Linked DNA regions of Homo sapiens: region 1 is linked to region 2. A link means that fine-mapping ties the variant in region 2 to the expression of a gene that starts in the linked region. Tissue or cell type: adrenal gland. Region 2 holds a variant in brackets; the other region holds the start of a gene. All regions are shown on one strand. Distances are between the middles of the regions.

Region 1 (16,767 bases), 25 kb before region 2:
GAGATTTGTTTAAAGTGATGGCGCCGGTGTTTAGCTACAGGCAATTTCCCCCAAAAGAAGAGAATTTGCATCTGTCACTGTTTGAAAACAATAATTACCCACAGGCAGTTCCAGTACCTAACTGCTTCTCTCCAAATTGCAGGCAGTTTTAAGGAAGCTGTATGTGAGGCCTCTTATGGTAACTTAAGAAAGTTTGAGTGTTTGTTTTGTTTTTTAAAATCATGTTCTTGCTGGGTGTGGTGGCTCACGCCTGTAATCCTAGCACTTTGAGAGGCTGAGGCAGGTGGATCACTTGAGGTCAGGAGTTCAAGACCAGCTTGGCCAACATGGTGAAACCCTATCTCTATTAAAAATACAAAAATTGGCCGGGCGTGGTGGCATGCACCTGTAATCCCAGCTACTCAGGAGGCTGAGGCAAGAGAATTGCTTGAATCCAGGAGGCAGAGGTTGCAGTGAGCCAAGATTGCACCACTGCACTCCAGCCTGGGCAACAGAGTGACACTCTGTCTCAAAAGAAATAAATAAAATAAAATAAAGTCATTTTCCCTCACCAAATATCAACAAATCATGCCCCACACCCTAACCAGCACAGGCCCAACCTGTGGGTTCCAGGAAAAGGTAGGATAAGGTAAGGCAAGTAAATTCCACCTGCTTCTCTACACCCCTCCCTAGACCACATGTGAGGAGAAAAACATGGAAAAGACATAAAATTGCCCAAGATTTAGAGCCACCTAATTTTACCTGTTGAGGAAATAGCAAAACCTCCTGGAGACATCCAGAACTGCACATCATGTGAGTCCACGATCTTAAAAAAAAGAACTTGCTCCCTGTGGTGAGTTCTCATTCTGCCAGGTTCTGCCAGGATTTGGTGACCCTGGGCTTATCATCTCAAAGGCCTCTCAGGCCAGGGGATGGGCCTGGGAAGCTTCCATTGGTAAAGCTCTGGGGACATTAAAAAAAGAAGAAGGCTAGGTGTGGTGGTTCATGCCTAGGCCGAGGCAGGCGGATCACGAGGTCAAGAGATCGAGACCATCCTGGCCAACATGGTGAAATCCCATCGCTACTAAAAATACAAAAATTAGCTGGGTGTGGTGGCGCATGCCTGTAGTCCCAGCTACTAGGGAGGCTGAGGTAGGAGAATCGCTTGAACCTGGGAGGTGGAGGTTGCTGTGAGCCAAGATTGCACCACTGCAGTCCAGCCTGGCAACAGAGCGAGACTCTGTCTCAAAAAACAAAACAAAACAAAAAAAGAAATGCCAGAACAGGGTTATTAACTCTTCTTTGTTTGAAATGTGGCATTGAAAAAATTAATGCTTTGTGCATCTCAGCAATATAAATTGGGTTGTTGGCACGAGAGCGACAGGCTTTAGGATAAACATGAATTCCTAGTGCACGCAACAGTGAGGCCTATGGGGGTCACAGGCTGCACCGTGAACGTGTGTTTTGAGTCGCTCATTTGTGGAGGGGTCAAGGGTCTACATCTGCAGATTCTCCTCAATGTGAGGCCTGAGTGCTACCTCCCCTGCAGCAAAGGCCCCAGCCTCTGTTTTGTGGCCTCAGTTTCTTCTAGGAATTGAGGAGGCTAGACGAACAATGGCTTCCAACTTTCTGTTTTATTTTTAAAGTCACAGAGTTTTAAAAGTGGATGTTTTGTATCCTTAGCATAAGCCGAGCTTCCTTCCTGTCGGCCCTGCCTCCACCACTCAGCTCTGTCCCTGCAAACCCCTGAGTTGCTTCTAGGACCCATCCAAGGTTTCCCAGGATCACAGTATAACCGGAGCTACATTGCGCAAGGTTCTTACCATGCAGGAGGAGAGACGTTTTTACCTAGTGACTCAGTGCACATCCACAAACAGATAACTGAAAGTTTTACTAAGGAATATTTCTCGTGACAGGAAATGCATGCTATTTTCTAGTCCACTGTCTTCTACTTCACTTTTAAAAATCCAGCGGAAAACCACTCAACGATGCTCAAATCCACTAGTAAGTGGCTGTCCATTCTGTGAACATGAGCTTAGAAAATCCCCAAGATACGAGTACTTCCAGTACTGATGATTTATGGCATTAACAAAGCTGTGATCCTGGTAGAGAGAGACAGAGACCCCGCCCCATCCTGTTCCCAGAATGGGGTGTCCTACCTGAATCACCGATTAGGAAACAAATTCTCTGCACATCTTTGCTATTGAAACGCCTACTCTGCAAGAGCCAGGGTTTGGAGATGAGCATGCCAAATACCGATTTTTCTAGAGACCTGCAACTTGCCTAACCCCATGCCTAATCCCAGGGAGATTTGGGGCAAGGGGCAGTGATGGTGGGGTGGCGGCACTTGGATGGGTTAAAACAAACACAGCAAAAATAAACACATAAAAGTCAGAAGAAACAAAGCTGTCTCCCTCCCTCTGTATGAATTTGGGTCACACGCATCACACCCAGATGGCCCGTGGCTTCCATTTCTAAGAGTTCAGAGAGAATTGCTTTCCCAAACCCCATGGTGATGCAGAAAAACGGCCCTCTGGACTCCCACAGTGGTGAATTGGAAACGTCTTTGCACTTTGCACAGCGTCACAGGGTTTTGGCCAAGGGAATACCTGCTAGCCATCAAGGGGTGGAAGCACGTGAGACCTACAGGTTAGATCCTGCGTGAAGTCACTCACATTATCTCATGAAGATAACAGGCACTGTAATGACGAGTTGAAAAACCAGGATACGGGCTGGGCATAGTGGCTCTTGCCTGGAATCCCAGCACTTTGGGAGGCTGAGGTGGGAGGATCACTTGAGCCCAGGAGTTCAAGACTAACCTGGGCAACACACAGAGACCTTGTCTCTATTTTTTCAAAAGCAACAACAACAAACCAGGACATGAAACAGCTCAGCAAACAAAAACCTGAATAAAACGCCACCATATTAACAGTGGTCGCCAGCCTTCACGATGTCATCTGCTCGTTTTTACAAGGAGCACCTACTTCTTTTGTAATCTGTGGACGAAGACAACTTTAAAAGCCTGCCATCCAAAGACACATTATCAAGTCTGGCTAAGGGAGTGCCAGATAAATGCACTCACTAGCTCATGCCGTGGTGTTAATGCCAGTTTGAACAGACAGGACCTGGAAATGCGCAGACACACTCCTCAATGTGCACACCTCATCTTTCAGGACCCTTGGCCCTTACTCCTCCTGACCATGTCACCACGGATGCCACAAAAACACCTGGTAGTGTGAAGTGCAGACAGAAAGGGGATCTTGGAGGGGGAGGGTGCCCTGTTTTGTTTTTCAAGAATCATCCTCAAAATCATTCAAGACAAACTCTGGAACCTCGGGTTCTGGTCCTGGCTGTGATCTCAGGCAAATCTCCTCTTCCCTGGGTCTTGGTCTCCCCAGTTGTCAAATAAGCAGAGTGGATTTTCTGATGGCTAAGATCCCTCTGGCCCCGATATTCTAAGATCTGAAGCTACGCATTCAGGTTTAAGGGCTGCTAAGTCTGATAAATCCAGGGCAAGAGAGAATGTGGAGACTTTAGGTTGCTCCGCCCAAGTAAACACCACAGACAGAAGGTGAGGACCAACCAGCAGTCTTGAGACGGGAGCTGAGGGGAGGAGTCGAGGGTCAGGGGAGCTCAGCAGAGACCCTCAGAGGGCTATCTCTGGTCAGCATCTTGGGGCTGTCTGGGAGGGACAGGGCTGTGTGGCCTGGTATTGGGAAACCAAACAGGTGGCTTGTTTCTTCCAAACAAACGGCCTGTTTTCTTTCTCAGGAGCAAGAGCTCCCAGGAGGGGTGGCCATGGCAGCGAGGGCTCAATCCAGAGGAAGGGAGAATAAAACATTGGCAGGGGAGGCTGCACCACCTGTCCAGGCTGGGGAGGAGCTCAACTCTATGAAGCCGCTTGAAAGACTGAGAGGTTGAGAAACCTGGGGCCCAAAACAGTCTTGGTCCCGAATGTGGCCAGGTCTCCTGGGTTAAAGTAAAGGGCCCTAGAAGGGAGTCAGGAGGGCTGGGTTCCAGTCCCAGTTCTGCTGCTGAACTGTTGTGTGTCCTTGGGTAAGTCCCATCCCCTCTCTGAGTTTTGTTTGTCAAATGAGAATGATGTCTCTGATGACCTGAAGGTCCCCTCCACCTGAGACATTCTAGGACCTTCCTTTTCCCTCCAAGCAAAGGGAGACTTGAAGCATGGAGAAGGATATTCTCACAGCTTTCGCTGCAAGAGGAGGATTCCTCCCAGCTTCAGAGCAGAAACAAAAGTGAAAGCAAAAGTCAGCAGCCCCCATACCACATCCCAAGTCAGAAGACACCTGAGCTTCTGAAACTTTCCCAGCACCGAGGGAGACAATGCTTCTCTTTTGCATGACTCCCACCTTAATTTGGGGCTGGGGGAAGAGAATCCACACTAAAGCTCCTCACACTCTGGCCTCTTCCAGCCCAAGAAGCCTGAGGGGTTTACAGCCAGGCCTGCAGAGGGAGGGAGGAACGTTGACCAGAAACACAACCTATTAAAACGGGAGCCCCAGAAGCTCCAGCTGGCCTCTGCCTCCAGCTTTCCCATCCCTCACGCAGACAGAGAAACTCCCAGGCCTCGTGACATCTGGAGCCAGCGAGCCGGAGAGTCGCAGCTGGAGGGGCTTGGGTCCTGCCAATACCCCAGACACTCACTCACTACTTCTCTCTGGCAGGGGACCAGGCTGGCAGTTTGGGCCTCATGTAGAACCCCAGAATCTTACCCTTGACCAACAGTCATGAGTGAAGGCCACACATTACTCTCTGCTTCCTGTATGGGCCTCTCCTCCAGCTCCCCCATTCATTCCCACTGCCCCCACCAACCCACAGGCCAGCCTCTCTCTCCTAGGAGTCTTCTCTAGGATCCTCGCCAACTTCCAGGCAGCCAGGATTATCTTCTTAACATATGGATGGGATCAGACGACTTCCCTGCTTAGAGAACTTGAATGAAAGGGACGTCTTTCTCCATGTTGTTCATCTTTGTTGAGCACCTAGAACAGCGCCTGGCCCACAGAAGGTGCTCGGCCAACATATGTTGAATGATTCCAAGAAAGCCCCCACCTGTCCAGTCCAGCTCACTCCGGACCTTCCATTCCCTTTACTTTTCCACACCCTCCACTGCCTGAGCACCTTCCCCAGCCCAGCACACCCCAGGCACTCTCCTGTCGCTGTGCCTTTGCCTGTGCTGTTCGATCTGCCCAGACACCCTTCCTCCCCTGTTCCCTGGGGGGACTCCAGTTCCCTGATGAATATTCTAATACTCTTTTCTTAGCAGGACCTCCTGAGTTATTTCCTTTCTTCTGTTCTCGTCTAAGCCCTGTGACATAACTTACTATAGAATACTTCATGTGCTAGGCATAAATACCCCACCTCGCCCTTGGAGATCATCATCCCATTTTACAGATGAAGAAGCTGAGGCTCAGAGAGGTCAGGTCACACAGCCAGCAAGTGGTGTGGCCTGACTGTATCGCCAATTCTGCAACACTTTTCATGAGTATCCCTGACTCCCTCACTAGGCTGGGGGCTCCCTGAGGCTTCTGGGCTCTGGGTCACTGGGGCAGGCCCCAGACACCCCATCAGAGAGCTGTCAGCTCCGAAGCCGTGAGGAGCAGGTTCACCACTAGCCTCCTCTCTCTTTCTTTGGCCTTTTCTCCCAGTCTGGGGGTACCTCTCAATTGGTGGAGTGAGATATTTGGAGGGGCAGGGGCTCTGTCCCAATAGGTCAGGATCCTCTTGTGACAGGTTTCCGGGGTGTGAAAGCTGTTCACGGTCCCAGGGCCAACAGTTCCCTAGACAAGCTGTTCTCCGGGTAACCCATTCAAAAGGAAAGCCAGAAGCCGGCCGGTCCTAGAGGGGAAAGCCTTCCACCCGCTGACTTACCTCCCGGTTCGGGTCCCTGCCCCGCCCACCTCGTCCCCGCCCACCCCACTCCGGCAGCGCCCGGGTTCCCAGCAGCCAGACCTCCCCTGCTGTTGGGAAGGACCCGCAGTCCCATGCACCGTCACAGGCACCTCGGAGCGCTGCGCAGGACACCCCACGGGCTGCTCCCTGGGGAAACCGTGGGGGAGGGGCCAGGTCTCTCGCCCCCACCGCTGGTTGGGAAAGAGACCATTATCCTGTAATGCAGACCAGGCGCGCCGGGCCAAGCGCCTCCCGTTTGTGCGCTGATTTGAGATCTGATTTGTACTCTGCTCTCCCCTAGGCCCGGTAACGTAACTTACCGCTGAGTGCTTGCTGGGTGCTGGGCATGAATGCCCCGCCGCACCCTGGGACGTTGTCATGTCAGTTTCACAGATGAAGAAACCGACGCGCTCAGGGAAGGACTCGAGTTTCAATCCACTTTGCTCATGCCCGATTCTTTACCCCCGTGTTTGCTTGTAGAGCGACACACACACATACACACACACGAATCTAAATCCCTAAAAGGCCCCGACTTCCATACAGTAAGGGATGCGCGAGCAAAGCGCCAAGGTGGTTTCCTGGGACCTACTGGGAAGTTCTGCTCCTAACCACGCGCTGAAAGCGCTTCTGGCGAAGCCAAGGGTTCGAAGCCCGCCGGGCGGATAGCACCTGTTCCCGCCAACAGGGGGCCCCCAAGGCCAGCTGCCTTCCCCAGCCGAGGCCAGCTGGCCAGGCGCGGTGCCCGGGAGGCGGGAGCGTCCCGCGCCGGCGGGGCGCGGCCGCAGAGGGTGCGGGGTGCGGAGTCCTCCCGGTGGTCGACCCCAGGCGGGAAGCGCTCGGCGGACAGACGGACGGACAGGAGACCCAAACGGGCCTCGGCCCCCTTACACGGCCCTGTGGGGAACCGACAGCGCGCCGCGGGAAGCAGCGGGCGCAAGGCGCGGCGGCTGAGACTCACCCGGGAGGCGGCGGGTCCGGCTCCGTCTCGGCTGGGCGGTCCGGGACTGCGGGCTTCGCGACCCCCGCGCCCCACCCGGGCGGCCTCCTCGGTGGGCGCCGCGATCGCGGGGCTGGGGTTCGGGGGATTCTTAGCCGAGGGAACGCAGTGGTGGAGAGGGCGCACTGCCCTCTCAGGGACCGGGTTGGGGACGCAGGAAGCGCGGCCTGGGAGCGCCGGCGTGCGGGAGGGAGGGACCGCGGGAGGCGGAGGGCGGTGCCGGCCAGGAGCGGCCTCCAGCCCGGAGAAGCACCGCCCACCGGCCGACCCTCCCTCCCGGCCCTCGGCACCACCCCCGGGCCCGAGGCGAGGGATCGCAGCTGAGCGAGGCGGGCACCCACTCCCCAGCGTATGCCGCTGGAGCGCGCTGAGCGTGTGCCGGGGGCTGGGCCTAAGTTCTCCCCAACCCTTGCCAGCCGAGTTGGATAAGAGGGGGTCGGGAGAAAATAGAGCCCTGATCCCCCCTCCTCCCTAGGGCCCAGAGAATCGGTGTGCATGCGTGTGTGCGCGCACGCGCGTGTGTGTGACGGGTGGTGGTCGGGGAATGTCTCAAGCTAGAAGTCCCAGGTTTTAGGGGTTTAAGTGGAGCTGGGAGACCCGCTTTCCTCCCACACCAGGCGCAGACGCCGAGGCACAGCTCCGCCAGCCGCCCCGCCTTTACCTGGCGGGATACTCACCTCTCCTCCTTCCTGGGGAGGCCACCGCCTCCCTCTCCCCCTTCTGCCCTGGGCTGGTTCCCAGCGAGGTGAGTGACCGGCACAAGTAGGGAAGGAGGAAGCGAGTTTTTAAAAACTGAGTCAGCTCACGCCCTCGGCCAGGGTCCCCACCCGATGCGTGGTCCCCAGGGCGCCCTCGGGATCGCACGCCCGAGTCCCGGCCCAGGTGGGGCCCATTCCGGGTTCTTGCGCGCGGGCAATGGATGGGGGCGCGCTGCACCGGGAGCCTGCCCTGCTGAGGGCTCATCCCCAGCTTTGCCGAGAACTTTCCCGGCGAGGCACCGGCTGGCGTTTTCCCAGCCTGCGAGTGGCAGGCGGGCAGCCAGTCTCTGCTCGGATCCACGGAGGCCCGGAGCCGCCACGGAGTTCTGGCTCCGGGGAGTGCAAACCCGAAGTCGGCGCGGAAGCCTCTCACCCGCGGCTCTGCCTCCGCCCCTTGGAGATCTGCCCTCGGAACTGCGTTGCTCTGGCGCCCGAACTAGGGTGGGCTGGTTTCAGCCAGACCGCCAAAAAACGTGGATGCTAAACACAGAGGGAAGAGCCAGCTCCCATTCCCTCTCTGAGCCTTAGATTTTTTTGAATTCCGAGAGAGGTCAGGCCGGGGTCCCCTTCTTGGGTGAGCGTCCAGCCCTTTGAAGTTCAAACACTGAGAAGCCGATAGGCAGCTGGCTGGCGTCACAGGATCGAGCCGAGGACTGAAGGCGCCTCCTACCGGGAATCCACCGCCTCCAGACGAAAATAGGCTGCAATCAAGTTCACTTCCAAAGGCGGAATTCATGGGTACATATGGTGTCCACGTGTGTACACCTGCAGAGTTGTAACATGCGGGCATTTCTCCCCTCAGCCCGCCATTCTGGCTTCTTAACTTGCACCCTAACAGCTCGACAGAACCTTGGCGTCCACAAAAAGGCAAGTTTGGGTCTGCCTTATGATTTGGGGGTGGGAAGGCATTTGGGGAAACAGTCTCCATGTCTATGACAGCAACTGCTATTCCTCACATCCTTGCTATGAACCAGGGGCGGGGTTACCACCCACATCCCCTGAACCATCTCATTTAATCCTCATAACCTAGGAGGCGGTTATTTGTTATGCCCACTTTATAGAAGAGAAGGCTGAGGCTTAAGGAGGTGAGGTCATTTTGCCCAGTGAAAACACAGCTGGGAAGTATCAGGATCTAGACCCAAGATGATCCACTCCAGAGCTTCTGCTCTCCCTCCCATAGCATAATTCCTCCTGTCTGCACATACTCTCCACCCTGAGAGAATGTTCACCTTGCCTGGCCACCTGCAAATGCGGAATAAACATTTGTTGGATGAATGAAAGCCCTAAATAATAACCCATGATTTTAGTGAATAGGGAGGACCCTTTGTGTAGGCAGGTACCTATAATAATATGCTCCCATTTAAGAGCTGTGCGTATTCATCCCAAAGTTTAGACAATGCATGTGGGGACCTTCCCAGGCTCCAAAGGAGTGACAGGAAACAGTCACGTAGCTCTCAGATAAGACCAGGAATCTGGTTTTCATTTGACTCTGCAAGATGGACTTTGGAGAGGCCTGGGGTGGGGGCGGGGGGTGATCATGTCAGAACAGCTGTCCCAGCTCCTAATCTGAAGACAAAGAGCTGCTGTACTTTTCCATGCCAGGGTCATCCCAGACCCGCCCCACTCTGCTGCAGACTCAACTGGGCAGGTCTTGTTTATCACAGGATATCATCTTCAGAGTGTTCCATTTAAGCAGGCTCACCCTGGCTGATCTGGGGAGAGACTGACGAAATTCTCAGGCAAAGCTGAGGCCCAGGCAAAACTGAAGAAGCTACCAAAGGAAGCATGCCTCTCCTTATCCTCCTCTCCTCCACAGCCCTCTCCCTCTACATGGTTAGTTTCTCTGAATCTTCCCTACCATTTATTGAACCCTGTGTTTCACGTGCACTGCATACATTGTGTTCTTTGGTTTTCAAAACAGCCCTAGAAGGAAGATTCTATTATTCTAGTTTTTCAGATGAGGCTGTTAAGACTCAGAGAAGTTAGGTACCTGGATCTGCTAGCAAGTGACAAAGTATTTGAATCTGGGGTCTTTGCAGGGCCCTTGCTCTAAATCACTAAGCTAGGAACCCCCTTCTGTGATAGGCAGAATAATGGCTGCCCAAAGATGTTCACAACCTGATCCCCAGAACTGGTTACTTTACGTGGCAAAAGGGACTTTGCAGATGGGATCAAGTTAAAGATGTTGGGACGGGGAGGTTATCCTTGATTTTCCTGGTGGGTCCAATGTTGTCAAAAGGGTTCCTACAAGAGGGAAGCGGGAGGGTCAGAGTTAGAGAGGGAGATGTGGTGATAGAAGTAGAGATCAGAATGATACAGTTGCTGGACAAGGGTCAGTAGCCAAGGAATGTGGGCAGCCTCTAGGAGCTAGAAAAGGAAAGGAATGGAGTGTCAGCCAGAGCATCCAGAAGGAGCTCTTGGCATCCACAAAAAGGCAAGTTTGGGTCTGCCTTATGATTTGAAGGTGGGAAGGCATTTGCAGATCCGTTTTGGACATCTGACCTCCAGAACTGTAAGAAGATAGTTCACTGTGTTGTTCTAAGCCATGAAGTTTGGGTCAATTTGTCACAGCAGCGGGAGGAAACTAATACATCCTGCAAACTCAGTCACCTAGGCAGATGTTCACTTCACCTGCTTTTTTGGCTAACTGTCCACTGTAAACTTCTGAAGAGGCACCATGATCTAGCCTACATCACGGATTTAGAAAGAAGGCAGGATTCCATCACCTTTGTCTTTGGTTTCTGAATCCTCTGCTATTTGTGAGTTGTGTGACCCTGGGCAGATGTCTTGTCCTCTCTGAGCCTCAGTTTCCTCATGTGTCAAAAAAAAATTATTAGCATTTCTATGCTAATAATACCTATTTTCCAGGACCAACTCGGGGATCAGGTGAACTAGTATGTGACAAAGTACCCAGTGTGGCCTGAACATGAGTTGTGGGAGCATTAGCCTGTCTAGTTCTGAAAGCCTGAATTCAAAGAGGAGAGGATGCTGTTCTGAGAATTCCCGTGGCATTACATTTTTATTCTTTCTGGCTGAATGGGTAAATAACGACAGTTTTAAAATATTCGACTGTCCCTGGTTAGTGACCAAGACCCCAGTCTGTCATGCTACTGACTTTCCAGGCACATCAATGAAAGTGAGGCTGGAAAATCAGCTTATAGAAATAGATCATCATGCAGAACAACTCACACATGTGCTCAGGAACAGAACGTCCAAGGGTTTTCATTGCTGATTAATTGTAACGGTGAAAAGTGGTCACCAACCTCAATGCCCAGCACTAGGAGCTATGCTAAGTAAATTGTGGCATAGACTCATGCTGGCACACTATGAAGTCACCAGAAAGAATGAGGTAGAGCTATCTGACATGGAAGAACGTCCAAGTTATATCATTCACCGAGAAAGGCACTAAATATGATGATACTACACAAACCACTTTTTTTATTTTTTATTTTTTTGAGACAGAGTGTCTGTCACCTAGGCTGGAGTGCAGTGGTGCAGAGGTTGCACTACAACCTCTGACTTCTCGGTTCAAGCAATTTTCCTGCCTCAGCCTCTCGAGTAGCTGGGATTACAGGCGTACACCACCACGCCCAGCTAATTTTTTGTATTTTTAGTAGAGATGGGGTTTCACAATGTTGGCCAGGCTGGTCTTGAACTCCTGACCTCAAGTGATCTACCCGCCTCAGCCTCCCAAAGTGCTGGGATTACAGGCATGAGCCACCATGCCTGGCTCACAAATGACTTTTTAAAAAGATGTAGACACACATACATATATTTGATTATGTACAGAAAGACTATGGGAGGAATCAAACCAAACAGGTTACCCTTAGAAACTGAGGGGGGGTGTGTGTGTGTTGGGGAGGTAATTTTATTTTTTAGTGAGAATGTGTTAATAATAAAGTTGGCTGGAAACCACCTGTATTGTCCACCAGGAGCATATCCTCCTATTATCTGTCCCTGTATCCTCCCTTGCTTGCTCTGTTCTCTGCCATCTGTCATTCTTTACCCTTGCTTGGTTCTGAGCAGGTCACTCTCTCTTCCCACTGACTTTTTTTTTCAGACAGGATCTTTCTCTGTCACCCAGGCTGTGGTGCAATGGCATAATCTCTGCTTACTGCAGCCTCCACTTCCTGGACTCGAGTGATTCTTCCATCTCAGCCTCCTGAGTAGCTGGGACTACAGGCATGCACCACCACACCTGGCTAAGTTTTAAATTTTAAATTTTTTTGTAGAGATGGGGGTCTTGCTACGTTACCCAGGCTGGTCTCAAAATCCTGGGCTTAAGTGATCCACCTGCCTTGGCCTCCCAAAGTGCTAGGATCACAGGTGTCAGCCACCGCGCCCAGCCCCCACTTACTCTTAATGTGGGCTTATTTCTAAACCTGTGAGGAGCTGAGCAGTGTCTCTGCTGTATGACTCTTGCCAAAGTCAGCAGTAAATCACGTATGTGCACTTTCAACCTGGCCTTTTCCTGAAACGGTGCACATTAGTCACCGGGAAGGGATGTGTCTTGCGTGTAGGTTTCACTGGTGATATACTGGCCCAGCCCCACTGAAGGCTGAATCAGGTCTGTGTGGCAGACAAATTGTGCTCACGTAGCGCAAAGCAAAATTGGATAGTTGGACCATTAGTTTAAATAAAACAGTTTTGTCCCGTTTGCTGAAAAATGTTGATTCTGGAAATGTGTTTCTATCTGAGTTACCAGTGTAACTGGACCTGTGTAGACAGCCCAGAATGAAGCTTCTGAGGACATCGTCGCATTGGGGTACAAGTTCTTGAGACCCCTGAGAACAGCCAGCTAGCAATTCTACCTCCCTATCACCCCATCTCCTCTTGTGCTCCAGCTTGTAGAAACTTCCCTCTAAGCCTCAGCATGATTGCAGTTCATCTGGCTGCTTCCTAACTGGTGTCCTGCTCCCAAACCCTCCCCCTTTAATCCATTCTCTGTATTGTAAAGTCAGCAATTCAGTGGGTCCCCGTTGTCCCCTCATGCAGTCCAGCCTTCTCTGCAAGGACATGTGGGACTTCCTAAGGGGGTGGGCCCTTCTCACAAGCTCAGCCTCATTACTCGTCATCCCTTGGGCTCCATGCTCTCTCATCTTCCCGTGGGTCTCTTTTTCATCAGCGACGAAACCTTTCCCAGAAGCTCCCAGTAAACTTCCTTGATACCTCCTTTGCCGGAACTGGGTCATATGCCTGTCACTGGCAAGGACGCTCAAAATGGGCATAGGCTCTCAGGATTCACCTGGAGTCACCTGGGGGTTGGTGAAGACACCTGAACCAAATGGAGGCTTTGACAACAGAAACAATGCCAATGGCTGTCAGAAGACCCCAGCAGGTCCCTGCAGCAGGTAACCTCGAGCCCAGGGAAGCTGCCATGTTGGACTGGCACACACTGAAGCAGGAAAGCCAACTGCAGAGGGAGCAGGAGAAAGAAGCAAGCCTCCACTTGCTGGGCTCAAGTGATTCTTCCATCTCAGCCTCCTGAGTAGCTGGGACTACAGGCATGCACCACCACACCTGGCTAATTTTTAATTTTTTTTTTTGTAGAGATGGGGTTCTTGCTACGTTACCTAGGCTGGTCTCAAAATCCTGGGCCTAAGTGATCTACCTGCCTTGGCCTCCCAAAGTGCTAGGATCACTGGTGTGAGCCACCGCGCCAGTCCCCACTTACTCTTAATGTGTAATCCAGGAGGCCTGGATTACTGCTGGCCCTCCTGTTCTGTTTTTCCCAGGAATTTCCTTTCCTGATGAGTTTCTGTTTCTTGAAATAAAAGGACACTAAGAGAGTCCCTTTGAAGCTTCGACAAGCAGCTGAGGAGTAATGCCAGAGGCCAGGCATGGGTGCCCTGACCTTCTGCTAGTTAACTAACTGCTCAAGGGCCCTGTGTGATGGGATTCCAAGGAAATCCACTCACCCCTTGGATAAGCCAATGACAACAATAATAGCAGCCAACCGTCATACAGTGCTGACCAGGGCCAGGCAGTCTGCTACACACTGTACAAGGCCTGCTGCATTTGATCAGGCTCGTCACCACATGAGGAAGGTACTATATTTCCCCTTTTCACAGATGGGGAAACTGAAACAGAGAGGTTAAATGACCTGACCATGAACACCGAGCTGGCAAAGCTGGGGTCTGGGCATGGACCCAGGCTGCCTGGAGGCTGTGTTCTTGCAGCTTCTCTACCCTGGCTCTCATAGAACTGGTTGCTTGTGACACCCTTCAGATGGGACTTCTTGATCCAGGTTTGGAGAATGGGTCATAAACCTGGGGACAGAGGGGCCCAAAGGGAGAAGCAATGACAGTATCTTCCACACCTGCCACGGTCCTGGTTGCCCGCGTACTCCGCCTTGCTGCTGTAGTGTGATAATATTTCACTTGATGAAAGTTTTTTTTCCTCCCTTTTGTTCTTTCCAGACAGTGGCTCTTCTTCCTTTAGGGGAAGCCTCATCCAGCAGAAAAGCAGAGATGCTTTTGAGTTTCAAGAACCAATACTTTGGCATTACAAGAGCCTGGGCTTTGAGTTTCAAAAGTAGAAGTCCCAGAGGCTTCTAGGAATAAAATTTGTGGCATTAACAAGACATCCTGAAGACTGAGCACGATGCAAAAGTCATTTCCCCATGACCAAGATGAGGTCAAGTGCCCTGGGCCAGGGGTCTGGACAGAGGATCTAAGGAGAGTGGATGAGCCATGATGATGTGGGGCTAGGGAGGTGGGTGGTGCCCAAGCGGCAGTCCCACACTAGCTTCATAAGTGTGGCTTTCAGGCAAGCTCAGGAGAGTGCCTGCTCCTCCCCTCCCAAGGCACAGATGCAGTGGGGGAGGGAGTAATTGGCAGAGGGGTGACGCAGCCTTGCAGAGGTTTACCAAGCTCTGCCAACATCTCCCGTGTGCCCCAGAGGAGGGAGGAAGAAGCTGAGAGGAGGAGAAAGAGGCCAGGCACAGAGACTTCCAGGAGGCCTAGGCAGCTGCATCTGCCATCAGGAAGATGGAAGTGAGGCCAACATAGCAGATGTCAGGGGACACCAGACACTGACCTCTGCCCAGGCCTTGGCACTTTCTGAGCCTCCTCTACCCCAAAAACAAATCTAGACGCAACCCAGGGCAAGAGGTAGGGAGGCCCTGATTAATTATGGCTAGATGTCTTTCTACCAGCCAAATGGGGACTTGAAATAGAAATTCAATCTAATTTTGAGAGTGGAAGTTGTGTTTCTTGCACCTCTAGGATGTGACTGAAGGTCCTTCTGGTTTCCCTGCTGTTCCTCAAAGGGCTTTGCATGTCTTGCTCTGCTTTCTTGCTCATTTCTACACAAAGGAGGAGGTTACCAGGGTTCTTTAGGAGAAACAGATGTGGCAGAGTCATAGAGTGGAGGTCACAATATTCCTCCTGCCCTTTCTGCATCCTCTTGTGAGCAGCCCACCAGTCTCTCCTTCCTACCATCCAAACTGTCCCAATCCCCTCCTCTGCAGAAAAGCCTCCCAGTATTGACACAGCAGAGTGGATGGTTCTTTGTACCTACTTCATAACGACCATAAGCCCTCAACCAACAGTGTACCTGCTCTTACCCTACCTGTCATTGTGTGTACTTGGGTGGAAGTTCAGTATTACACAATGTTGTCTGGGTAGCAGTTGTCTTTGTTGTGACTCTTTGAGATCTTTAGATTAGAGTGTTGCAGTTTTGGCACTATTGACATTTGGGCTGGGAATTCTTTGTCGTGGGAGACTGGTGCATTGCAGGATGCCAAACAGCTTCCCTGGCTCTACTCTCCAGATGCCAGTAGCACCCCTTTCCCCAGCTGTGACAATCAAAATGTCTCCAGACATTGCCAACTGTTTCCCCTGGTGGCAGAGGAATCAGCCCCAATTAATAATGGTTGCTTAGCTGGGTGCAGTGGCTCACGCCTGTAATCCCAGCACTTTAGGGGGCTGAGGCAGGCAGATCACTTGAGGCCAGGGGTTGAAGACCAGCGTGGGCATGGTGAAACCTAGTCTCTACAAAAAATAACAAAAACTAGCCGGGTGTGGTAGCAGGTGCCTGTAGTCTCAGCTACTTGGAAAACTGAGGTGAGAGGATGGCTTGAAGTCGGGAGGTCGAGGCTGTAGTGAGCTGAGATGGCGCCGCTGCACTCCAGCCTGGGTGACAGAGTGACACCCTGTGTAAAAAATAAAAACCAACCAACCAAACAAAAGAACTATTGCTTAAAACATTGAACACAGGATCCCCGGCATATGGCTTTTGCTCTGGAATTGATGTCTAGGAGGATAGAGAGCAAAATTTAGTCAGAAAATCGGTGGCCTCGAGGTCAGAAGACCTAGGTTCAAGCTCTAGTTCCATCACTTCCGTCTTGCGTGATTTTGAGCAAATCATATAGCTTTTCTGAGCTTCAGTTTCCCTATACGTATATTGGGGAATAATAAATGAGGAGAGGGATTTTCATTTGTTTTGTTCACTGCAGTACCCCCAATACCTAGAATAGCACAGGGCACATAGGAAGTACTCTATACAGATGGGTTGACTGAAGAACTCTATCTCCGCTCCGCCTCCCCCACACCCAGGGCTTCTGCAGGGTTCAAATGAAAAAGTCTAAGAACTTCCATGACTGAGGGGTCACAGGAAATATTGCACCCCATTCAAACTCAGAAAACAACAGCCACTAGCTGACATTTTCTAAATTAATTTTATAAATCATAAAGATTCGTAATAGCCAAAAACTGGGAACAAACCAAATGTCTTTCAATGGTAAATGGTTAAACTGTAGTGCATCTATACCATGGAATACTACACAGGAAAAAAAAAACCCAAATCAGCCGGGCAGGGTGGCTCATGCCTGTAATCCCAACGTTTGGGGAGATGGAGGATGGGGTGGATGACTTGAGGTCAGGAGTTCAAGACCAGCCTGGCCAACATGGCAAAACCCCATCTCTACTAAAAATACAAAAAAATTAGCTGGGAGTGGTGGTGCACACCTGTAATCCCAGCTTCTTGAGAGGCTGAGGCTTGAGAATCACTTGAGCCTGGGAGGTGGAGGTTGCAGTAAGCCGAGATCGTGACGCTCCACTCCAGCCTGGGCAACAGAGGAAGACTCTGTCTCAAAAAATAAAACAAAACAAAACCCCCAAA
Region 2 (12,217 bases):
AAACCAATTGAATAGGAACCTTCTGGGGTGGAAAGGAACTCTAACATTAGGGTTTTTAAACTCTCCAGGTACTTCAAACATGCCTTGGCTCTGTATATTAGTCCGTTCTCACGTGGCTATAAGGACATACCCAATACTGGGTAATTTATAAAGGAAAGAGGTTTAACTGACTCACAGTACAGCATGGCTGGGGAGACCTTAGGAAACTTACAATCATGGTAGAAGGGGAAACAAACACGTCCTTCTTCACAGGGTGGCAGGAAGGAGAATGAGAGCTGAGTGAAGGGAAAAGACCCTTATAAAACCATCAGATCTCATGAAAACTTACTATCATAAGAATGGTATGGGGGAAACCACTCCCATGATTCAATTACCTCCCACTGGGTCCCTCCCATGGCACGTGGGGATTATGGAAACTACAATTCTAGTTGAGATTTGGGTGGGGACACAGCCAAACCATATCACTCTGGTACTAAAAACCAGCTAGCTCATTGGGGCTGGGGTGTGCTATCTGCAGTTTCAGCAACCACCCAGGTGATTCTCCTGCTCATTTATAGCTTGAGGGTCTCTGCACAAGGGCCTTACTTCCCATAATTGCTTGGCACCCTGAGGTCAACAGATAAGGCTGGTCCTGACCAGAAGTGACCTGCTGGTCACATGAGATCACCTGCTAGTCACCTGAGGGCTGAAAGAATAAACATCTCAGGCACCTCGTGACCATTCTGCAGGGGGAGCTTGATGCAAGGTCTCTTGTATGAGTCTAAGAATCTTTAAAATTGCCCTGTTCGCTTTAGAAGGACCCCAGTTTTATTTCTTGATGTTCTCATTTTCCTATGAAATTAGTAGTATCTTTCATTCCTGGAGGAAAAAACTAGTCCTTGCCCCTTGTGTTAAAAATTATTTCTCTCCTCCCAGGTATGCAGTTCTACAGACAAATGGAGATTCTTTAATAGCAGGGCTGCCTGGGGGAGAAAAAGTTATTCTGGCCTTATTTACCCAATGGCATTTCAATTGACAATGAACACGAATGCCCTGATTGTTGTTTTGTGGGTTCTGGCCAGTCCACACCGGAGCTGGTTACATTTCAAAAGTTTCTTGATAGGTGGGTGCCTGGGAATTAAAATATATTTCCTTGGCCTGGTGTGGCTGGTCACACCTGTAACCTCACACTTTGGGAGGCCGAGAGGGGAGGATAGCTTGAGGCCAGGAGTTTGAGACCAGCCTGGGCATAGAAAGACCCCATCTCTACAAATTGTGTGTGTGTGTGTGTGTGTGTGTGTGTGTGTGTGTGTGTGTGTGTGTATTTTTTTTTTCTTCTTATAGTGACAGTGTTATCAAAACCAAGGTGGTTTTCCAACTTAGCCCACAAATATCTATTCAACTCATATAATTGTAGAAAGTAACCTGGGTGCAGTGGCTTACACCTGTAATCTCAGCACTTTGGGAGGCCAAAGCAGTGGATCATCTGAGGTCAGGAGTTTGAAACCAGCCTGGCCAACATGGTGAAACCCTGTCGCTACTAAAAATACAAAAATTAGCTGGACGTGGTGGCATGTGCCTGTAATCCCAGTTACTCAGGAGGCTGAGGCAGGAGAATCGCTTGAACCCGGGAGGCAGAGGTTGCAGTGAGCGAAATCTCATCACTGCTCTCCAGCCTGGGTGACAGAGCAAGACTCTGTCTTGAAAAAAAAAAAAAAGTACTATCACAACATGAGTAAGTTTTCACTTATGTAACTCATCTAAGATTTTAGATGGGAAAATGTAAAAACTGATTCCAGAGTTAATAGAACTTGTGTTGTTGGAAAAATGTTCACATCTCCCTCTTAACCCAAATGTTGGCCCGGAGTGTCTGTGTCTGGGTGCTGTGCTGTGAGGGCCGGGGGTCACCATCCTGGGCAACGGCTTCGTGCAGACACCTGCTCAGTCAGGCTGGAGGCCCCAGCAGCCAACCAGCTGCTGTTTCTCAGTCTGGTCACTGCCCAGACCAAAGCAAGGACAAGAGAGGGGACAGGTGCTCTTGGGAGATGCAGTTGAGAGCAGGGATGTGCTTAGCTGGGGCTGCACCCTGGCAGGCACAGACTTGCTTTGAGATATTGCATTTTATCTTGAACAAATTCATGCCACCTTTGCATTCTACCCAACAAAACTCTCACATTTGCGGGGCACAGTGGCACACGCCTATAGTCCTAGCTACTCGGGAGGCTGAGGCGGCAGGATTGCTTGAGCCCAGGAGTTCAAATCTAGCCTGGGCAACATAGTAAGACCTTGTTTCTAGAAAAACCAAACCAAAACGATTTGTTTTATTATATACAGCTTAACCCTTCTGTGCCTCAGTTTCTTCATCTGTAAAAGAGTGAAAATAGCAACACCTGCCTTGTAGGGTTGCTGTGAGGACCGAATACATTTCATTATATTTAATGAACTTAGAATAATGCCTGTCACCTAGTAAGCACTACACAAGGTTAACTATTACTATTATCAATGTTGTCACTATTATTCATCTCATTAACTTACTAGTTGTCTGGAATCAGTTGCCTGGGAGTGGCCCCTACTCTGGTTTTCAACACAACACACTCTTAAGAGCCAACTGCACACTCTGGGGGAGGAAGGGCAATGTTTCTGCAAATTGTTGTTCCCTTGGCATATTAGTTATCTATTCCCATGTTACAAATTATGCCAAAACGTAGTGGTTCTGTGAAAAACAGTATGTATTATTTCATAGGTTCTGTGAGTCAGGATGAAAGCTGGTGCTCCTGGTTCAAGGTCTGGCACAGGCTGCAGTCAAGATGCCTAACAGGCTGCATTATCCCGAGGGTCAACTGGGGAGGGACCTGCTTCCAGGCTTACCCACGTGGTTGTTGGTAGAACTCAGCTCCTTGCAGGCTGTTGGCCAGAGACCACTTTAGTTCCTGGTCAAATGGGTCTCTTTATGGGATGGCTTACAACTTGGCAGCTGGCCTTATCAATGCAAGCAAATAAGGAGACACACACACACACACACACACACACAGAGAGAGAGACAGAGAGCGAGCACGCCCACACATACACAAGCAAGATGGAGGTCACAGTCTTTCATAACCTAATCTCAGGAGTGACAGCCCATCATTTTTACTGGATTCTATTCTTAGAAGCAAGACATGACCAAGGAGAGGGGACTTCACAAAAGGTGGGGTCATTGGGAGCCATTTAGAAGCTGCCTGGTCTGTTGGGGGCACAACACCTTGAGATCATGGGCATTAGAACCAAGTTTGATGCCAACTTTTAAAAAATTTTATTATTGGATCTTGAATTCCTAGCCTCAAGTGATCCTCCTGCCTTGGCCTCCCAAAGTGCTGGGATTACAAGGATGAACTGCCATGTCTGGCCCAATGTGAGCTGTTTCTCTTACCTAGTGTTAAAATAAAATGGGAGGCCATTAGGCTGAGGTGGCTCCCATGCCCTGGGATTCTATATAAACAAGGTGAAGCTTAACCTTAGCCAATCATAAAAGACCAGCTAAGCATTAATTACATGATCAGGAACTTTCCACCAGGATCATCTAAATAAGGCAACTGCCCAAACCTTAACCAATCAAATAATTTCTTTATTTTCCACATTCCTTATTTAATTTATCTGATTTTCCTCTTTACTCTATCAAAGCCCTTCCTTCAAACTCCTCTGGAGGAGCCCTGAACCACCTTCGATTTGGTGCTGCCCAGTTCATGAATTGCTGTTTGCTCAAATAAACTCTTTAACTTTTTAATGTGCCACCATTTATCTTTTAACACCAGCAGTGTGAGTCCCACACGTTGCTCTATCTCACCCAGCCTCGTCCCTGAGGATCAAATGTTACCTACCTTGATGAGCCACCTTGCCCAGTGTGTGAGTTTCCCGTGGCTGCTGTAGGAGATTGCCACAAACTTGGTGGCTTATTCTTGCACGGTTCAGTGGCCAGAAATATGACATGGGACTCACTGGGCTAAAATCAAGGTGTCAGCAGGGCTGTGTCCCTTTCAGGAGGCTCTAGGGAGAATCCGTTCCCTTGTCCTTTCCAGCAGTGAGAGGCTGCCGGCACTCCTTGGTCTGTGGCGCCTTCCTCCATCTCCACAGCCAGGAATGGAAGTTGAGTCTTTCTCATGTTGCACCGTTCTGACCTTTTCAGTAGCCACACTTACCTCTGACCCACTTCTTTCTCCTCCTTCACCCAGCGTTAAGGATCCCTGTGGCTACATAGGGCCCCCTGGATAATCTAATCTAGATATTCTTCCTATTTTTAGGTCAACTGATGAGCAGCACTCATCTCACCTGCAACCTTAGCTCCCTCTGCCATGTAAAGTATCACAGTCACGGGTTCTAGGAACCAGAGTGTGGGCCTCTGGGGACCCATCATTCTGGTGACCATGGAGTCCTTCCTTGAATCAGTTTTCATGTGACCCAAGGGCCTCCCCTTTCTCACAGGCCACACCTGGCTGCCTGATTGTCCCTGGCAGGGGGGTCCTGGCACCCAGAGGAGGAGGCGCTCCCCATATGCCCAGGGGCCAGGAGGGAGGCTCATTAATCGTGTAGGAACATGAAGAGGAGGCAGGCGGCTGGACAAAGTGATGTTCAGGGTCTTGCTTCGAGGTTCCCACGTGTGTGTCTGACTCCCTGGGGCTGCCCACGTGGTCCTGTGGTCCTGTGGTTTTACTCCAGGAGGCCACCTGCCTGCCACCCCTCAGAGGAAGGGAAAAAGCTGCCGTTTCACGTTGGAGCTGCACGCACAGAGGAAGACCTCCTGCCTGGCATCAGGCCATTCCTCAACTCATCTCCTGCTGGGTGGTCTATCGTCCTCACAGCGTGCTGGGCTCAGGATCTGGGCCTCCTGGCTGGAAGGGAATCTGGGTGGCTTAACAGGTTTTATTTGTCCTGAGGCCAGCTTTCAAATTTTGCCGACCCCACTGATGTTTCTGGCATCCTGTGGAGGAAAGAAAACAAAAGCCATTTCCCCCCCAAAAGCCACCTTTTGGGATTGCAGACAGCTGGCAGGGATGGTGGGGGGCCCTGCCCACCTGAAACTTTGTCTACTGGGCCTGGATCTCTGAGTGGCCTAGGCTGCTTTGGTCCTTCTTGAGCTGAGCTGGGCTAGGCTGGTGAGGGGCGTATTGTCCTGCCATCTAGTGGCGAGTTCTGGGACTGCGAGCTATAATGGCCCAGGCGCTGCCTATAGTGGAGCCATATATACCAGGGCGGTTGGTCCCAGGCCCCTGGTCATGCCACAGAATCACCAAAGGAAGTTTAAAAACTACGTAGGCTCCAGACTCACCCCACACCTAGTGAATCAGAAATCCCGAGGCCTGGAAATAAGCATTTTAACTTTAGCGTGTAGATTCCCTAGGCCCTATCTCAAAACCCTAAATTATTGGCTTTGGAGAAGGACCTAGAAATCGGAACTTTTAACAAGAGTACTCCAGTGACTCTCGTGAGCAGCTTGACTTGAACACCACCCATTCAGCTGCCCACAAGATAAATGAGGCAACTGTGGGATGTAGATTATTTTAAAAGCTGATACAATATTCGATCGTATTACTAGGAGCATAAAGTCCAGGTTAAGGGAGGATAGCAGTTAAAAACATCTGGGTTCGAATCCCTACTTTTGATACTACTAGTTATGTGACCCGGGGCCAGTGTCTTAACTTTTTCCTGCCTCTGTAAAGTGGGGATAAGAGTACCTGTCTGCCAGGATTACAGCAAGGACTCAATTAGATCTCATGTAAAGGGCACAGGGCCTGACCCTTGGGAATTGGGCCCTTCATTACGATTCCACTGCTTGGGCCTATGTGGGAGCACGGTGTCCTTATTCAGGGATGTATTTATGAGAGGATTGTCCAGAGAAGGAAGAGATGGAAGGGGAGACCATGGAAGAAGGACAAGGGGCATGGAAAAGGCTTGAGGGTCTGTAATGGGGTTGGGGGAAGGAGATGTTTTGGGAGGGAGGCATTTATGCTGCTTAAAAAAAATAACAGGCCAGGCGCGGTGGCTCACGCCTGTAATCCCAGCACTTTGGGAGGCCGAGGCGGGCAGATCACCTGAAGTCAGGAGTTCGAGCCCAGTCTGGCCAACATGGCGAAACCCTGTCTCTACTAAAAATACAAAAATTAGCCGGGTGTGGTGGCTCATGCCTGTCATCCCAGCTACTCAGGGGGCTGAGGCATGAGAATCACTTGAACCCAGGAGGCAGAGGTTGCAGTGAGCCAAGATCGTGCCACTGCACTTCAGCCTGGGTGACAGAGCAAGACTCTGTCTCCCCAAAACAAAACAAATAACAGAGGGTCAACGTGGAAGAGGGACCAGGAGGCAGAGTGATAGAAAGTCCCCATGAGCAACTGGAACTAAGAAGGGCACAGGCAGACTCATGGTACAGTGAGCTCACAGCCACAGGAGACTGCAGGCCGATGCTGCATGAGGAATCTGTTGGGTGCCATAAAGCAGTGGTTCCCAACTGTGGCACTTATGTCCCTCATGGAGTGTGACCTGATTTGGGGGACATGCAGGTGAGCATTTGCAGGAATATTTATTTGTATATTTATGTGCATACTTGGCACATAGAGGCACACATATCCGTACCCACATCTATGTATTAGAAAACAGAGCCAGCGTCTTAGGCCTGTGGTTACACAGACACAGGCAGTGATGTCAGGTCTGGCCCGATTTAAAATAGGCAGCTATTATGCCAATAATAGTAGAGCTGGTTGTGGATGTGGTTGGAATAGTCAGGGTGGTCTTGGGGAACCCAGCCATAGAGGAACTTTCTGCTTGGGTTTGGAGACTGATGTCAGTGACATGGACTGGCTTTCCTGTGAGTGAGGACTCCACCCCAGGGCCTTCACTCTTGTGTCACCAAGAGGGTGTCGGCAAAGTTGCCGTTTTTAACAAGCCAGTCTGAAGCCTCTGGTGACCTCGATGCTGGAGTTTGTTGGGTTAAGTGACCACAAAACCAAATGAACCTGCCCACCTAACACGTGTCTCCTGGAGTCTTTCACTCTTGCTTTGTGTTTCTTTTCTTCACAGCACCTGCTGACATGATATATATGTATGTGTGCATTATTTCAGGCCAGAGACTGTTTTGTCAGTAGATCTATTTCACATAGTGCTGGCATAAGGCACACACACCCAGCAAGTGTTTGTTGAGTGAATAAATGATGGAAGCAACTTTGATAAGACTTGCTCCAGTTGTTTGGGGATGCCAGTTGCATGCCCATCTATCTCTGAGAGGCTCCTGGAAGAGCATCTTGCAGCAAGTGTACCAGGGCTCTGTGCTGTCAGGGTGGTGTTGGCTCCATCCTCTTGGCGCTGGGTTGATCTCTATCCTGAGCTAGAACCGGAGTTGTCCTGGAGAGGAACCTGGCCAGAAAAGAGCCATGTGGAAACCCTGTGAAGAAACCAAAAGAGGGGCGATGGTCCTGGGGTGTCCAGATGGTGGCATGGCAGTGAGGAGACACAGAGCCATAACTTGCCCACAAAAGCAGCCTGGCTTCTGACTCTGCAACTCTCACAGGCTCAAGGGGACGACATTGTAACCAAAATGCAGATTCAGTTCCTCGCCACTTGCAGAGTCTAATTAACAAGCTAGGTCTGGTATAAAGAAAGTGACTTTTTATTCCAAAGCTAACATAGGGAAAGAAGTACAGGCTTCCTGCCTTAAGGGTTCCACCTTGCCTTTGGAGCAGAAGGGGAGTGTTTTTAAAAGGGGCCTACACAGGGGTGGAAGTGAGCAGGGGGGTTTCACATGCTACCTTGATGGCTTATTTACTGGGACTCGAGTTGGCATCTTCATGGGCATACTTTGGGTCATCAATCAACTGTTATCTATCGAGGAAACCTCCTGGTGGGTGAGAGTTTTGCTTTGGAGCTTCTAAGCACATGATTAGGTGAACTTGCCCTGTAAGGAGTGTGTGGGGAAGAGGAGGTAAAAGGCTATAACTGCATTTCTAAAGAGCTAAGTAGGAAGTGAAGAACAGGGAGAAATGGAGAAAAGAAGAGAAAATAATAAAGAATAATAGTAACTCCTTGTCTTTTTCCGGGAAAAATGGGGGCACTTGTTACTCATCTCTAGCAGCAAGACTGGGTCAATTAAAAAAACAGAAGAATTTAGGATTCTTTCATGCTTCCAAGTTGTTCTGTGTAATGCAGATAGAGTCCTTAAAATGCAGGCGAGAGTTGTGTGTGTGCATGTGTGTGGTATGTAGTTGCTGGGAGAAAGGGTGGGAGTCACCTCAGTGTCAAGGCCAGTGGACAGTAGGTCATTTACCTGGGAATCTTCTCCAGTCAAGCATGTGGAATCCAATTCTAGTTGTCTTTAGCTGGTGATGGGGGTAGTGTGTGAGACTCTTACGTGCTGAATTGCATATCCTCAAAATTCAGATGTGGAGTACCTAAGGGTGTATTTGGAGATCAGATCTTTAAAGAGGTAATTAAGTTCAAATGAGGTCAGATGGGTGGGCCCTAATCCAACATGACTACTGCCTTATAAGAAGAGGCGATTTGGGCACACACATACATAGAGAGGCAACCGTGGATGGACCACAAGGAGAATATGGCCGTTTGCAAGCCAAGGAGAGGGGCCTCAGAAGAAGCCAACCCTGCTGGCACCCTGAGGTTGGATTTCCAGCCTCCAGGACCATAGGCGGGTCCATGTCTGTTGTGCAAGCACCGTGGCCTGTGGCTCTTGATTATGGCAGCCCTAGCAAACTAAGACACAGAGAAATGGGAATGGTAGGGTGGTGGTGCTTAGTGCATCACAACCAAACCTCAGAAAGCAGGGGTGGACGTGGCCTTGGAGACGACTGGATCTGAGAATAGATCAGTTGTCCTTGCCCCCCTCCCGCATCTAGGCATCCGACTCTGGCTGGGCCCCGTTCTCTAGGCATCTCCTTGTGGGTGGGATGGGGCAGCCTGCAGCTCTGGGACTCGTCGTACAGCTTAAGATCCAAAAAAAAGCGGCAGCTCACCGCCACCTGCAATTC[T/G]GAGCCCTGTCGGAAAGGGTTCTGATTTTCACCTCTCAGGTTTGGAGTCTACTCCCGGGCCTTTCATCATGGGCCAGGGCTGCAGGGCTGGATTGGTCCAGCCAGGATCCTGAGACTTCCCTGAAGGCGGGGTTGGGGGTGAGGTGGGGGCAGCAGGATCCTAAGGGCACTAAGATCAGCAGCACCCCCACCTCCAAGAACTTCACGGAGTGGGGGCGGAGCAGTTCCCTGAGGCCAGCCAATCAATCGGGAGGTCTCAGCAGAGATGCTTTCCCCTCTCCATCCTGATTGGTTCCCACCCAGGAATTTCCCATGAAATCCAAACCACAAGGCTCGAGGCGGACCCCCACTGGGAGGTCCCGGGCCGCGCCTGGGGCGCAGGCAGGCGGGTCCCTGTGAGTGTGTGGAGTGGTGGTGGCTGTCGACGGCCATGTGGCGTCATGGTGATAGGAGGGTGTCCATTCTTTTTCTTCCTTATCTAGGACTTGAGGTGGGACATGGAAGAACAGGGACCCCTCCTGGTTTGTCCACCCAGCCCACACCTCCATTCCTCACCCAACCTACCACTTCAGAGCCGGGAAAAGACCTCAGAGAACATCCGCTCCGACTCTACCGAGGCTCAGACAGGGTAAGGAGTTGGCCCCACGTCACACAGCCTGGTGTATGTGGCAGAGCCTGGGTGACAGACAGTCAGCCCCACCAGGTCTTTCAGCTCCAACCTTGGTTAGAAGGGGAGGAAGGCTGGCACACCCAGCTGCTGCCAGGCACCGCCGCTAATGTGCTGTATTAGTGGCCGGGCCTGAATCACTTGCCCAATTTGGACGTGGGCAAGTTTCCAAAATGTCCTGGTTGTTTCCTATTGTCTATTTTTAAAAAATGATGGCCTGTAATCCCAGCACTTTGGGAGGCTGAGGTGGGTAGATCACCTGAGGTCAGGAGTTCAAGACGAGCCTGATCAATATGGTGAAACCCCGTCTCTACTAAAAATACAAAAACTAGCCGGGCGTGGTGTCGCGTGTTTGTAGTCACAGCTACTTGGAAGGCTGAGACTGGAGAATTGCTTGAACCTGGGAGGCGGAGGTTGCAGTGAGCCGAGATTGCACCACTGCACTCCAGCCTGGGCGCCAGAACAAGACTCTGTCTCAAGAAAATAAATAAATAAAAATAAATAAAATTTAAAAATTTAAAAAAGGTGGTGATGATGCAGGTGTGGTGCAAGATTAGCTATTATAAGTACTCACCGAACCAGACCTTTCTAAGTCCCTAAATTATTACCTTGTTTTAAGTCAGGAGCTCACGGGGCTGATGGGGCTGTCTTTACCCTTTAAGCCTATAATTTACAGAGCAATATTCTTCCAGGCAGAGGGGGTGGATCCAGCTTCCAACCGTGCAGTACTTAATAATGAGGAGGTCTTTTTCGCCTTGGGGACATCTGGCTTCAGGAAATTTTACTGTAAACAGCTGGGTGTGACCAGCCAGCTTTAGGGCCAAGGCTGTAATGGCCCAGTGGGTTCGAGCCCAGACTCCACAGAGAGCCAGTCTGCTGAGGCTGAGGTCCTAGCTGCCACTCACTAAGGTGGGACACTGGGAAATCTATGGAACACTCCGTGCCTCAGTTTCCCATCTGACCAATGGGGAAAACAATGCTTACCCGAGATTGTTGTGGAGACTAAATGAGCAAAAACACATACAGCTGTGATTCTCAATCAGGGATGATTTTGTTCCCCCAGGGACATTTGGCAATGTCTGGAGAAATTTTGAGTTGTTCTGACTAGGTAGACAGATGTTGTTACTGGCATCTAGTGAGTAGAGGCCAGGGATACTGCTAAACATCCTATAAGAATGATCTGGGCTTGGTGCGGTGGCTCATGCCTGTAATCCCAGCACTTTGGGAGGCCAAGGTGGGAGGATTGCCTGAGCGCAGGAGTTCGAGACCAATCTGGGCAACAAAGAGAGATCCTGTCTCTACAAAAATTAAAACAAAACAAAACAAAAACTGGCCCAGAATGTCAGTAGTGCTCACTGAGAAATGCTGGCGTAAAAGACAGTGTGATGGTCCAATCAGTATTGGTGCTTATCAGTCCTCAGCTCAAGGTTGGATGTCCCTGAATTCTCAGTTCTCTTTCTGGCACTTATGTGAGCTGCTGGGTGCTTGGTCTTAAGTTTTTTCTCCTGTCTGAATATCAGGGGGCTCCTCTCCCCTGGAGTCTGCCTGCCCAGCCCCACCTGCAGGGGAGAGGAAGCCTGTGTTGGGAAAGAGGAGGCCCCTGCCGGGCCACTTTAGAGGATCCACTGGCTTCGCACGTCCTAAGAGCCGCAGGGTGCTCTTGGGCTGCTGTTCTCTCACCTCTTAAGAGCGGAAAATCCGTGCATGCATTGTGTCCTCAGGCCATAAGCCTGGGTGGGCTGCCTCCACCCTTGGTGAGTTTGCAATCCTATCCAAGCCAATGGGATTCCACCCTGAGACTTTGCTAGAACCGCCTGGCAAGAGGGTCTCTCTTGTGCAGGGGTTGCTGGCTGAGACAGTGTTTGTCTTGTGACCATTTTGCCAACAAATGGGGACAATCTGTCTGAGAATTAACTGGTATAAACGATAGCAAACCCAAGAGGTGAAGAAGGCTGAGTGTCTTGAAAGCAACATCGGACACCCTGGCGCCAGCTGTGTCCAAAGCCAGCTGTTGACCTTGAGTGTTCTTTACGTATGCCGCTTCATTCCCATTTACTGTATTTGCAAACCATTCTTTGAGTGGGGTTTCAGTCACTGGTCACTGGCTGTATTAGGCCATTCTTGCATTGCTATAAAGAAATCCCTGACACTGGGTAACTTATAAGAAAAGAAGTCTAATTGGCTCATGGTTCTGCAGGCTATACAGGAAGCATGGTGCCAGCATCCCCTTCTAGGGAGGCCTCAAGAAGCTTCCAATCATGGTGGAAGGCAAAAGAAGATACCTTCTTCCTACTTTCTCTCTCTTGCTCCTGCTTTTACCATGTATTGTGCATTACATGGTAAAAGCAGGAGCAAGAAGGAGAAAGTAGGAAGAAGATGCCAGCATTTACAACAACCAGATCTCGTGAGAACTCACTCACTGTCACAAGGCTAGCACCAAGAGGATGGTGCTAAACCACTCATTAGAAATCGGCCTCCATGCGGAGCTTGCAGTGAGCCGAGATCATGCCACTGCACTCCAGTCTGGGCAACAGAGCGAGACTCCGTCTCAAAAAAAAAAAAAAAAAAA

The links. PIP is the estimated chance that this variant, and not a neighbour inherited with it, causes the effect.
Region 1: TMEM51-AS1 starts here. The variant in region 2 is fine-mapped to the expression of TMEM51-AS1 in adrenal gland (GTEx, PIP 0.93).

Annotation. Positions count from the first base shown.
Region 1 is chr1:15,144,035-15,160,801 of GRCh38, reverse strand. It overlaps TMEM51-AS1 (TMEM51 antisense RNA 1), which reads left to right and starts at 8,338. Exons shown (of 5, transcript NR_027136.1): 1 at 8,338-8,511. It overlaps TMEM51 (transmembrane protein 51), which reads right to left and starts at 7,055. Exons shown (of 4, transcript NM_001136218.2): 1 at 6,848-7,055. RefSeq lists enhancers at 5,550-6,211, 6,343-6,432, 6,212-6,873 and silencers at 6,583-6,762, 6,853-6,902, 6,963-7,232.
Region 2 is chr1:15,121,620-15,133,836 of GRCh38, reverse strand. It overlaps TMEM51-AS1 (TMEM51 antisense RNA 1), which reads left to right. Exons shown (of 5, transcript NR_027136.1): 2 at 9,464-9,609. Among named protein-coding and RNA genes, the nearest start is that of TMEM51-AS1, 25 kb to the left of the region's middle. The variant T/G (reference allele first, on the strand shown) is at 8,982.